2 separate regions of the Homo sapiens genome follow, and region 2 is linked to region 1. The links come from fine-mapping of genetic effects on gene expression. A gene starts in region 1. The other region holds a variant in brackets. All regions are shown on one strand. Distances are from middle to middle. Region 1 holds the start of ZBTB5 (zinc finger and BTB domain containing 5). Region 2 overlaps ZBTB5 (zinc finger and BTB domain containing 5).

Region 1 (5,230 bases):
ACTGATCCCCACCCTTCACCTATTTTACATATATCTACCCCTTTCCTAATTGGTTTTCTACACTGTCGTGCCCACCTTTGAGTGGTGTCTTTGCTTTAACCGTTTTTTTTTTTTTTTTGAGACAGGGTCTCACTCTGTCTCCAAGACTCCAAGTGTGCAGTGGCATGCTCTCAGCTCAATGCAACTTCTGCCTCCCAGGCTCAAGCGATTCTTCCGCCTCGGCCTCCTGAGTAGCTGGGATTACAGGCGCACGTCACCATGCCGGGTTAATTTTTGTATTTTTAGTAGAGACAGGGTTTCACCATGTTGGCCAGATTGGTCTTGAACTCCTGAGCTCAGGCAATCTGCCCGCCTCAGCCTCCCCAATTGCAGTAATTACAGGCGTGAGCCACCACACCCGGCCTTCCCTTTAAACTTTTTGCATCAGAAACCAATCAGCACACACTCCCCATTCTGAGTCCCTAAGAAGCCCCGGAACCAGCCACACTGGGAAAGAGACCACCCCCTGCATGCCCTCTTCTCTGAGAGCTGTTCCATCACTCAATAAAATTCTTCTCTGCCCTCCTCACCCTTCGAATTGTCAGAGTAACCTAATCTGTTTGGGATGTCAAGATAAATCAAAGCTTTTAGGAAATACATGTATAACTAATAAAATGAAAGGCACCTCTAAAACTGGATCTTGAAATTAAAAGCTACTATTCAGTGGTGAAAATGATGAGAACATATGCAAAGAGCAATAGTTCACTCAGAAACAGCTGGTCTTTTAGGAGATGAGAAGTTCACTTCATACTTAGACAAAAGGCATAGTGTAGTGCTACATTCCATCCCACCTGCTACACTAACAAAACTGGCTCTACTAGACAACATCCATATTTGAGAAATATTACGTACAGTAAAAGAAAAATCACACGCTTAAAACTGACAGAGGGGGAAAGTATTTAAAATTAATTTACATTAAAAAAAAAGTTGAAAGCTAACATAGAATCAATACCTTGGGTTCTTTTTTCCATTTCCAAAACGAATGTGAGCCAGATTCAAGATTCTCTGTCAGCACTACACCAGGTTTTGTCAATTTCACTGAACACAAGATATTTTAAAGTCTCCAATTCGATATAATTCATGCTGAGTTCTTTAAGTACTATTTGATATCCCAGTGATTTTTTATTACTTCCACTTTGGGGACAGTCTTGTGAGTCTCTTTTGAGAGCGTTCGCTCCTAAGTCTGTAAGATGCCTTTCCTCCAAATCTTACCATTTTCAGAATTCTGCTAGAGACATATCAATTAACCAAAATCCAGCTTGCCAGCATCCTCAGCTAACTAAAAGTTATGTTTTGACACAACTTTTAGGGAAAAGGGGCAAATCTCTAGTAAACGAGTTGACTTCAGGACTCTTCAAAAAAAGAGTCTGTTTATTCAGCAAAACCCAAGGGCCCAAAACAGGTCCCCACCCAAGTAGTCTTACCTGTAAGGTCACCAAGCTGGCTGTGGTGGCCAGGTCAATCTTCCCAAATTTGATGAGATTTCCATAAGGGTTAAAAGGAAGAGTGAACGGTTTCCTTTGGCTTAGGGGCTTTTCTCTAAAATTCCTTGTCTTCTTCCCATCTGGACTTTTCCCTCTGAACTATTAGCTTACTGCCAACCACCGTCCCCACAGAAATCACAAGAGTTTAGGCAAATGAAAAGCAAGTTCTGCCCAGCCTTTTACATCTAAGCACAACAGCCCATACTAGGACAACAAATTACCAATGACTTAATGACTAAGGCACAGCATTCTCTTCAACCTCTAAAGAAAAGCCCGTAATGTCCTCTACTTAATACAAGTGAAAAATATGAGAACATGTTTTGGAATATTTTTGCTTCAATTTTTGAAGGTGAAGAGTTCCTTCTATTAATTCAAGTTAACTAGAGTCAGAAGATACTACTTAGTAATCAACTTTACTGTGCTTTCACCTAAAATTTTTCCTCCAAATTATTTAGGATTTGCCTTCTGTTCAGAAAATTAGTTTCCACAATATCCTTCACTATGCCAGAATGCTGACTGACTTAAAAAAAAATGACCATTATGAAAGGAAAAAACTAACCTTCAACACCCCTTAATTCACTGCCTTTTATTATTTACATACAAATCTGTCCTCCAAACAGGAGAAGATGGGACGGCAGTGTCTTACCACCGCATCCCCCACAGCTCCTCGCACGAAGCCTGGGAGTAGTGGGCATTCAATAAATGCCTATTAAACACTTCAGTCCTCTCATAACAAGTTGGGGCATTCCGAAACACTGGCTCCACCCCTCCAGGGTCGGCCGCTGGCTCCCGATGGCAGTCTGCCTATGGCCTTGCTCTGGTGAAATGAAACCTCGTCGCTCAAGACCCAGGATGGGGGCAAGGGAGCCGTCCGACCACATCCCGCAGGGCAGCAGATCCTCTCTTCATCCCGCCAGGCCGCTGGTCCTGAGGCCTTTCCCACCCCATTCGGGAACCTACGTCGCCAGCCGGGGATCCACAGGAGTACCAGCCCCCGCCCCACCCCGCAGACAGCCTGGCGTCGGGACACCGGGGACGCCTGCGCAGAAGAACCCGCCTGGCCCCTTGGCTCCAACGGTAACAATGCTCCCCTCCGAAAGACAGCCAGAGTAGTCCGGGGGCACCAGTACACGTCTGCGCGCTCCCCGACGCCTTGGCGCGCCCCTGGTGCTCAACCTTCCCCACGTGAGCGCGCCCGCCATCACGATACTCGCTGACGGGGTCTCCTCACCTGAGTCGGGCTCCGCCCCCCTCCTCCTCGCTGAAGGAGGCGGTGACCCCTCTCCGATCGGACTCGGCAGTGTCAGAGGAGGTGGGAACGTCCTGACCAGCGTCTCCGTTACGGGACTTCCTCCCCCTTCCACCCGCCCCCCTCCCACCCCGCCTCTAGTCCCCTAGCTCCTCCAGCCAGTTCGCCGCAGCACTCTGAGAACACGGCGGCGGCGCCCGAGGATAAGCGGAAGTGACGTAATGCAAGAGCGCCTACTCCGCCCCATTCCGCCTCTCCCAGTTGGGCTGCAACCAATCAGCAATGGGAAGGGCGGGGCCGGGGTAGGAGTGCAGCCAGCCGGCGCGCGGAACCTGGAGGAATTTACTTAGCCCCCGGAAAAACTGACCAATCCACGGTCCCTGAAGTCTGGTTGTGTTTACTACCGACTGAATCCGTGAGCTCTCTGACCAATCACCCTTTGCCTTACAACATGTAAAACGGTTATCAAATGCCTTTTAGGGCGGGATTTATCACTAAACTGCTCCAGGTTTGGACTATAGAAATGCGGCTGTTCGCTGCAACCAATCAAAACCCTCTGTGGTTTAGGCTAGCGGGCTTTCCGCCTAAATCCGCCAATCACAACAACGACTGCGTGATGTCTGAGGGCGCCGGAGAGGCGGGCCCTCAGGGCAGGCCGTACCGCCATTGGCTGGTTCTGAAGGATTTTTCCACCCTCGTGGTGCCCGGCGCTTTAGTGACCCAGGGCTCTTCTCCGGGGTGAATTCCCTTCGCTGAACACACACACACACACACACGTAGAGGGCTGGAGATTGAGTTCCCACTTCATAGACGTTGGGAAAGATAAGATTCCAAAAAGCTCTTTAGGTTTAACTAAGCCAAAGTCCAGGGTGAAAACCGCGAATAAAAAACGCTGTCCATCGGATGGCAGTTAGGTCGGACCCCGCCCCTCGTCCAGTCCGGGTGGCTGCGCGTCTGGAAACGGTGGCGCCCCAGGAGCCCGGCGCTTGGCCCCGCACTCGGCTGCAGGTCAAATAAGCCTGTAGTCTGCATGCCCAGATTTATAATCACCTGCACTCCCCCCACAAAAAAATAGGAAGCGCTAAGCTCTCCCACTCCTGTCCCAAACGTGGAAGGGTCGCGGACTTGTATGGGACGCGGTCTGAAAAAAGCGAGCCCCGGGGCGACGCTCGGGTTTCCAGGTGCACCCTCGGAGGGAGAACCCGATCCCTGAGCATCGGACACTGGGGCCAGGGAAGAAACCCCCTTTCCTAGGGTGAGGACGGCAGAAGAAAGCTGCCTTCTCCGGCGCAGCGTGTCTGGGAGCGCTGCGTGGCTCTGGAGACAAAGGCAGGCCCGCGAACTCAGCTGGGTTCTTCTGGGGGTGGGGGTAAGGGTCTTGGAGGAGCTCCCAGAAAAATGGAACTCCCAGCCGGGCGCGATGGCTCACGCCTATAATCGCAGCAATTGGGAAGGCTGAGGCGGGCAGATCGCCCGAGATCAGGAGTTCGAGACCAGCCTGGCCAACATGGTGAAACCCTGTCTCTACTAAAAGTACAAAAATTAGCCGGGCGTGGTGGTGGGCGCCCGTAATCCCAGGCAACTACTCGGGAGGCTGAGGCAGGAGAATCGCTTGAACCCGGGAGGCGGAGGTTGCAGTGAGCTGAGATCGTGCCGCTGCACTCCAGCCTAGGCAACAGAGTGAGATTTCGTCTGGGGGGAAAAAAAAGGAACTCCCCGCTTTAAGAATGGAACACACCGAATACCCCTACAGCAGATTCCATCCCTTCAGTTACTGGTCGGAAGTGTTGATTTCAAAAAGCAACCTGTTTGCGTGGATTTCTTTAAGGGCTCGGTGGAGTCTGATGTTTAATTCTTTTCCTTAAGATTCGCTGACACTATAGCCATCACACATATTTTACTGACAGATTGATCGGTAAAATAAGGAAAATATGGAATGATGACAGTAAGCCAGGCAATAGGAGAGATTCTTTTGCGTATCTGTCTCTCAACGGTAAATGCCATGACCTAGATTGCCTCAGATTTACAGGCTGGCAAAAGTTTTAAAAATTGTATATTCAGAATTTAGGAGTGTGTGGAAGTGGACACCCGCTATATTGTGGACGGGGGTGTCACTGATGCCCTGTTTGACGATCACTTCGTAGTATCTATCAAAATTTAAAATATGCATTTGTTCCCTTCTAGATGGTAATTCCTTTCTAGAAATATATGCTACCGAAATACAAAGATGTGGAATAATAAACCCAAGGCTGTTTACCACACCTTTGTAAGTACAAGGGGCGGGGGGGGGGGGGTAAGTGGACAACAAACCTAAATGTGTAACTAAAGAAGATTACAAAAATTTGATAAATATGTATCATGGCTCCTTCATGACTAAGGCTCCTATAGATACAAAACGAAAGTAATAAAACCCTGCGGCCAGGCGCGGTGGCTCACGCCTGTAATCCCAACACTTTCG
Region 2 (5,230 bases), 25 kb before region 1:
AATGAGAACTAGGTAAGGACGTAACTCTTATTTTGGTCAGAACGATTAGAGGTAGGTGGGTTTAATTTTAAAATTAGTTTCAGCACCTACACATATTGTTCCCTTTGCCCATTCTGTCCCCCCAGCCCCTCCCTGCCCCCAGGTGGATTTTTTTTTTTTTTAATCACCACCTTACCCACTTCTCTCCAAGGTCAGGCCACAGCACTGCCATTGCCAATGCCTTGCTCTGTGCTCAAGGAATCAGCTTCCAGCTCTTCCCAGCAGCCAAGCCAAACTGGCAGATGGAGTTTCCAACTTGGGAGGCAGGTCCAGGGAGCAGCACAAGATTACGCAGGCCCTCAGAGAGCAACTGGGTAGACTGAAAAGCAAAATCTCATGCATGTGCGTAGCTCAAAGACAGAAAAGGCGGGGGAAGGCAGAAGGGAATGATTTGAGAGGAACGACCAATTAACTGTTAATAGAAGGTTTGGTTTAAAACAAAGTACTAGTCAAAGAAGGGCTGGCAAAGAGATATTACCCTCTTTGGTTTCAACCTTAATAACGTAAAGAAAAAGAACACATATTTAGAGGCATGAATATGACAAATTTTTTATTTCAAAAATCTCAAGTTGTAACCAGCATAGCACCACTGACATGGATGCCTTGATAGAACTCCTTGATAGAACTTTATGATCTGTTCACCAGAAAAGATTCTACATGATCACGCCAGACTATAATTAAGGCTAACCAATCAAAATTCAGGTACCCAAAACCAGTTATAATCCAGGTAGAAACTACAGATCATAGGAACCCTGGGACTGGTTTTCCAGGGAACCCTGGAATTATTTTTTAAGTGCTACAGCATGTACAAGGACACTGGCCCACAAGCTTGCTTCTCACACGTAGAAACTGACAGACTAAGAGGTAGATGAGAGATTCCAGGTTCCATCTAGCAGTGGAGAGGCAGGGCTCCAGCATGTATCAGAGATAAGCCCCAAAAGCAAAGTCCACTTATGCTTCAGCAGAGGTAAGCGGGCAGGCTCCTGGCACCACCTCCTCCAAATGGAAGGGAAGGAGGGCTGCACCGCTCTGCCTGTGTCACTGGCTCCTCTCCCTGGGTCCAGGCAGGGCCTCTCATTTTCTCCAGGCTAACCCACTGTGTCCCAAGGTTAATCTCACAAGACACTGGTCCCTACATCATGTAAAGGGTGGATGGGGAGCCTCCTAACACCATGTCAACATGACTGCTAACAAGGAGCCACACACACAACTGAATTTCACAGGACCTCATATCCTCCAATGGGCTCTTTCCCACATCTACTCGAAAGGAATCGTGGGTTTCCCTTTGGGCTTTTCTTCCTGGGAATCAGTCCATGGGAGATGCCAAGCGCCCCTGGAACATGAAATTATCCACACATGTGTAACTGCACACTCTAGATTAACAGGAGAGAAAACACGCTCATTTTTGTTTCCAGCTACACATACTTAGCTTTCTAAACACAAAAACTGAATAATTTATCTGATTTATGAATGATGGTTTGGTATGTCTAAGAAAGCTATATAAAACATAAAATGAACTCATGTTCATGCATGAATTAAACTGACTTCATGAGTTCTAGGGAGACGCATTAACCTGTGCTGTTCCCCTGGACGCACACTTGGCCTCATACAGGTGCCACTAACAGCCCTGATGGCAGTGTCAGAGGACAGCAAGGTGAGGCTGGGGAAGTGAGGCTGTAGGGCCCAGAGAGGCCCTAGTGCCTCCAACAGTCTCAGATGCTACTTGATTACTTCTATGCTATGGGCTGCTAACTCTTACATAGCCTAGAAAATATTTACCCATGAACACTACCATGTTTGGATTTCAAACAACTTTAAACATTTGGTATCAGATTGGGGGAGCAACAAATAATAAAATTTAGGGTCTGTACTGTTAAAAGTATAGTATATAACAGTAATAAAACCTGTGTGGGGCATTTTTGGTTAATCTGTCGTCGAAAACGGTAATCTAAACCTGGGAGAGTTGCTATATGGGGAGGGGAGAGTGAAGAAATGGAGAACAGGCTTGTCCTCGGGTAGGATGTGTCAGCCTAGACTGGCCCTCAACATCTGGACGGAGCAACAGGTAAATGTGCCATGGAAGACCCCACAAAACATGACTCCACATCAGCAGAACAAAGACAAACACAAGTCTTTTCTGACTTCCTAACATGGAACTGTAACATCTGTAATACAAGTTGGTTAAAATACTGCTCAAACAGCACATAGG[G/GAAAC]AAACAATACCTTGTCACTCTCTACAAGTACACACTCCATTTACAATTTGGTTTTTAAACCAGAAAAAACTGTTAAAACATCTATCCAACAGTGATGTATTCAAAAGTATATACATCTAATAGTCCAAGAGAATGCTCACTCTGGACCCAGTGTCAGCACCAAAGTGCAGTGTTTATGACTGCAAATCAGGTAAAAATAAAAAATACAGTACTTTGAGGCCTAGGACTAGCTCATGATACACTTTAAAGCATTTGTGGCAGACAGGTGTGTCCTCAAAGGCCTTCCTTTAAGACAGGCACCAAATCACCACTGGTTACACATAAGTGCATTTTGCATCACTATACAGGGATATAATACTCCCATCAGAAGGTATAGGAAATTTAAATGCTACACAGTTTTACAAAAATTGCTAAAAAATTTTTTTTGCACTTCAATTTTTAAATTTTTAAATGTGCCACTTTTAATATCAATTACAAACTACTTTCTGACTGCATTACTCAACCCCAAGGAAGCACCTGGTTTCAGGGATTGCATCCCTTTCCCAAGACGTGCACTTCACTCAGAAATGCAGCAGCACAAATACTACATGTTAGTTCTCCGGTTATTAGTTGCTAAACTGTTTAAGAGCCACTGGGCAGCTGGAAGCCTCGAACCCAAAGGCATTAACTGCTTACCAAAAGAAATTCAGTCTGACAACTGGCCTCAGCGTTGTCTTGTAAGGACAAACAGCTAGAGCAAAGTGCTGGGAAGATTGCTGCTCTGCCAGCGCAGGCAGGTAGTCTTTGAGTGCTTATACAGGTGGCTGGACTGACTAAACCTCTTGCCACACTTCAGGCAGGCGTAAGGCTTTTCACCTGTGTGAACACGGATGTGCTTCTTGCAATCTGTCAAAGTCAGAAAAGTTTTGCAGCAGATTTTGCAGGCATACTTGCGAGCTCCCTCTACAACCAAAACATTGTGCTCTGATAAGGCCTTCTTGCACTTTGACAGAACATCTGCAGATGCCCTGGTCAACTGTGGAGGGCCAGGCTGGGAAGGATGGCCATTTTCAAATGAGGACGTAGCTCCATTCATCATTAGCTGAGAACTGGTAGAGTTTTCTGGGATCTGTGAGCTCCTGACGGAAGTTACAACTGGCATTTTGGGAGCTATGCGGCGGTAGTAAGGAAAGTTACTGGCTCCTCCCCTTGGGGAACCTATCATTACCCTGGAGAAGGAGGAGTGGAGGCCCAAACCAGACCTGGAAAAGTCCATCCCAAACTGTTCTCCTCCTTGGTAGCCTGAAGTCTGCACACACGGCAGGCCCATCACCTCCTGCATAGGCCTGACGAAGTGGGAGTCTGCAGGTTCACTAAATGGGTTCTCTACATGGGAGCCAGGGGCAGAGGAGGGCCCACCTGCAGGCCCAGCCTCTGGACTCAACAAATAGGGGGCCTCACTCTCCAGCCTGCAGTCACTAGTGGTGTTTGGAATATTATCATCATTGTTCTGATTTGCAGTAAAGTTATTTCCTCTGCTCTTGTTAAGAAAATTCGAAATACTAAAAGTGGACTTATGCTCTAGGTTATTTGTGACTTCCAAAATATGGATATCACCTACCCTGTCTGTGCTAGACTGGGGATCTGAAAAACTCCGATCACTGCTTTCAGGGCTGAGGTCTATCTTCTCGGCACTGACCACAACTCCTTCCACTTCCACAGACTCGCTGCCTTCTGCTTGTGAGGTCACATCGCTCACTTCATCCTGAGGCTCAGGTGAGCTCAGGGGCTCAGATTTAACCACCACTCTCATGTGCTCCTTCTCACCAAGGCCAACCTCAGGGTTTTCACACTGAAAACTACTTTTCTCAGGTGCAGCTTCCTGATCAAAACTAGTCTCAACCTGAGTTGCACGAGAGGCCATGGACAACTGTGCCATGTTGCCAGCACTGTTATCAGACTGGCTGGGCACCTGGGCATCTTCTTGAGTGCCAAAAGACTGATCAAACATGATCGCACTATCTTCCTGGTTATCAGTCATTCCATCAGCTTTAGGATTATCCACAATTTTCAGAGAATCTGGTGAAAAGAACTCCTCCCGAGAATGAACCCCTGAAGGCCCATTCTCCGGTGTAACATCTGAAATGGCAGACTCATCTATGGAGGGTCGGAGGCGCTGCCTGGCCCGCTCCTCTGCAGACTGCTTGCGCTTATGAAGGCGTCTCATGGGGAAGGGCGTGCGCTGATCCAGGTTACTGCGCATGGAAGAGCTCATGGGGGCTGGCTGCTCCTCGCCATTCTGGCTGGAATTGAGGGCTGAGCTCACGATGCTTAGTCCCAGCTGCTGTAGCATAAAGGAGCGCTGCATGCGGGCGCTCTGCTCCTGAACGCGCTCACTGGGGGGAGACATGGGCAGCGTCCTTGTCGTTAAGTAATGTTTACATGCCTTAACAACAGAGTTCAAATGCAGGTGAGAGGCTGCCAATAAGACATCCATTACATTGCTCTCCCCCAGCATGAGGGTGGAGGTATACATCATGTCAATCAGTGCAGCAAAGGCCTCTGCTGTCACCACCTCGCTATCCAGCTGGATCATGTTCATGGTCTGATCTCCTTCTGCCACTGAGAACAGGGCTCGGAAATGCGTGCTGCATGCTGCCAGCACGGAGCGGTGGGCTTTAAAGTGTCTATTCCCCACTACAATGACACAATCACAGAGCTGGCCATGAAGTCTCTGGTAGTTCAGCTGCTGGAAGATTTGTTCAAAGTGACCAGGAAAATCCATGATCCTACAGAAAAACAAAGAAAGAAAATGTTAAGACCTAGAAAAGCTTCAAAGTCAGAACACAAAGGGTATGATGAAAAGAGTGGAATGGATGGCCAAGCTTGGACCTTTGAAGCCCGTGATATCTCTGATAATGGGCACATACACTAAGAGCTTGTCATATAAGAAGCAAATGGCAATTCAGCCATCAGCCCAGGAGGCATGCACACATGTGGGCC

The links. PIP is the estimated chance that this variant, and not a neighbour inherited with it, causes the effect. A credible set is the group of variants that fine-mapping cannot tell apart.
Region 2: its variant is the best candidate, but not a certain one, in a credible set for the expression of ZBTB5 in esophagus mucosa (GTEx, PIP 0.83).

Annotation. Positions count from the first base shown.
Region 1 is chr9:37,462,461-37,467,690 of GRCh38, forward strand. ZBTB5 (zinc finger and BTB domain containing 5) reads right to left here and starts at 2,990. Exons shown (of 2, transcript NM_014872.3): 1 at 2,755-2,990. RefSeq lists enhancers at 1,912-2,597, 2,598-3,283, 3,284-3,969, 3,970-4,655 and a silencer at 2,818-2,917.
Region 2 is chr9:37,437,540-37,442,769 of GRCh38, forward strand. ZBTB5 (zinc finger and BTB domain containing 5) reads right to left here. Exons shown (of 2, transcript NM_014872.3): 2 at 563-5,016. The coding sequence starts at 5,012. The coding sequence ends at 2,979. It also overlaps a transcript of GRHPR not described here. Among named protein-coding and RNA genes, the nearest start is that of GRHPR, 17 kb to the left of the region's middle. The variant G/GAAAC (reference allele first, on the strand shown) is at 2,249.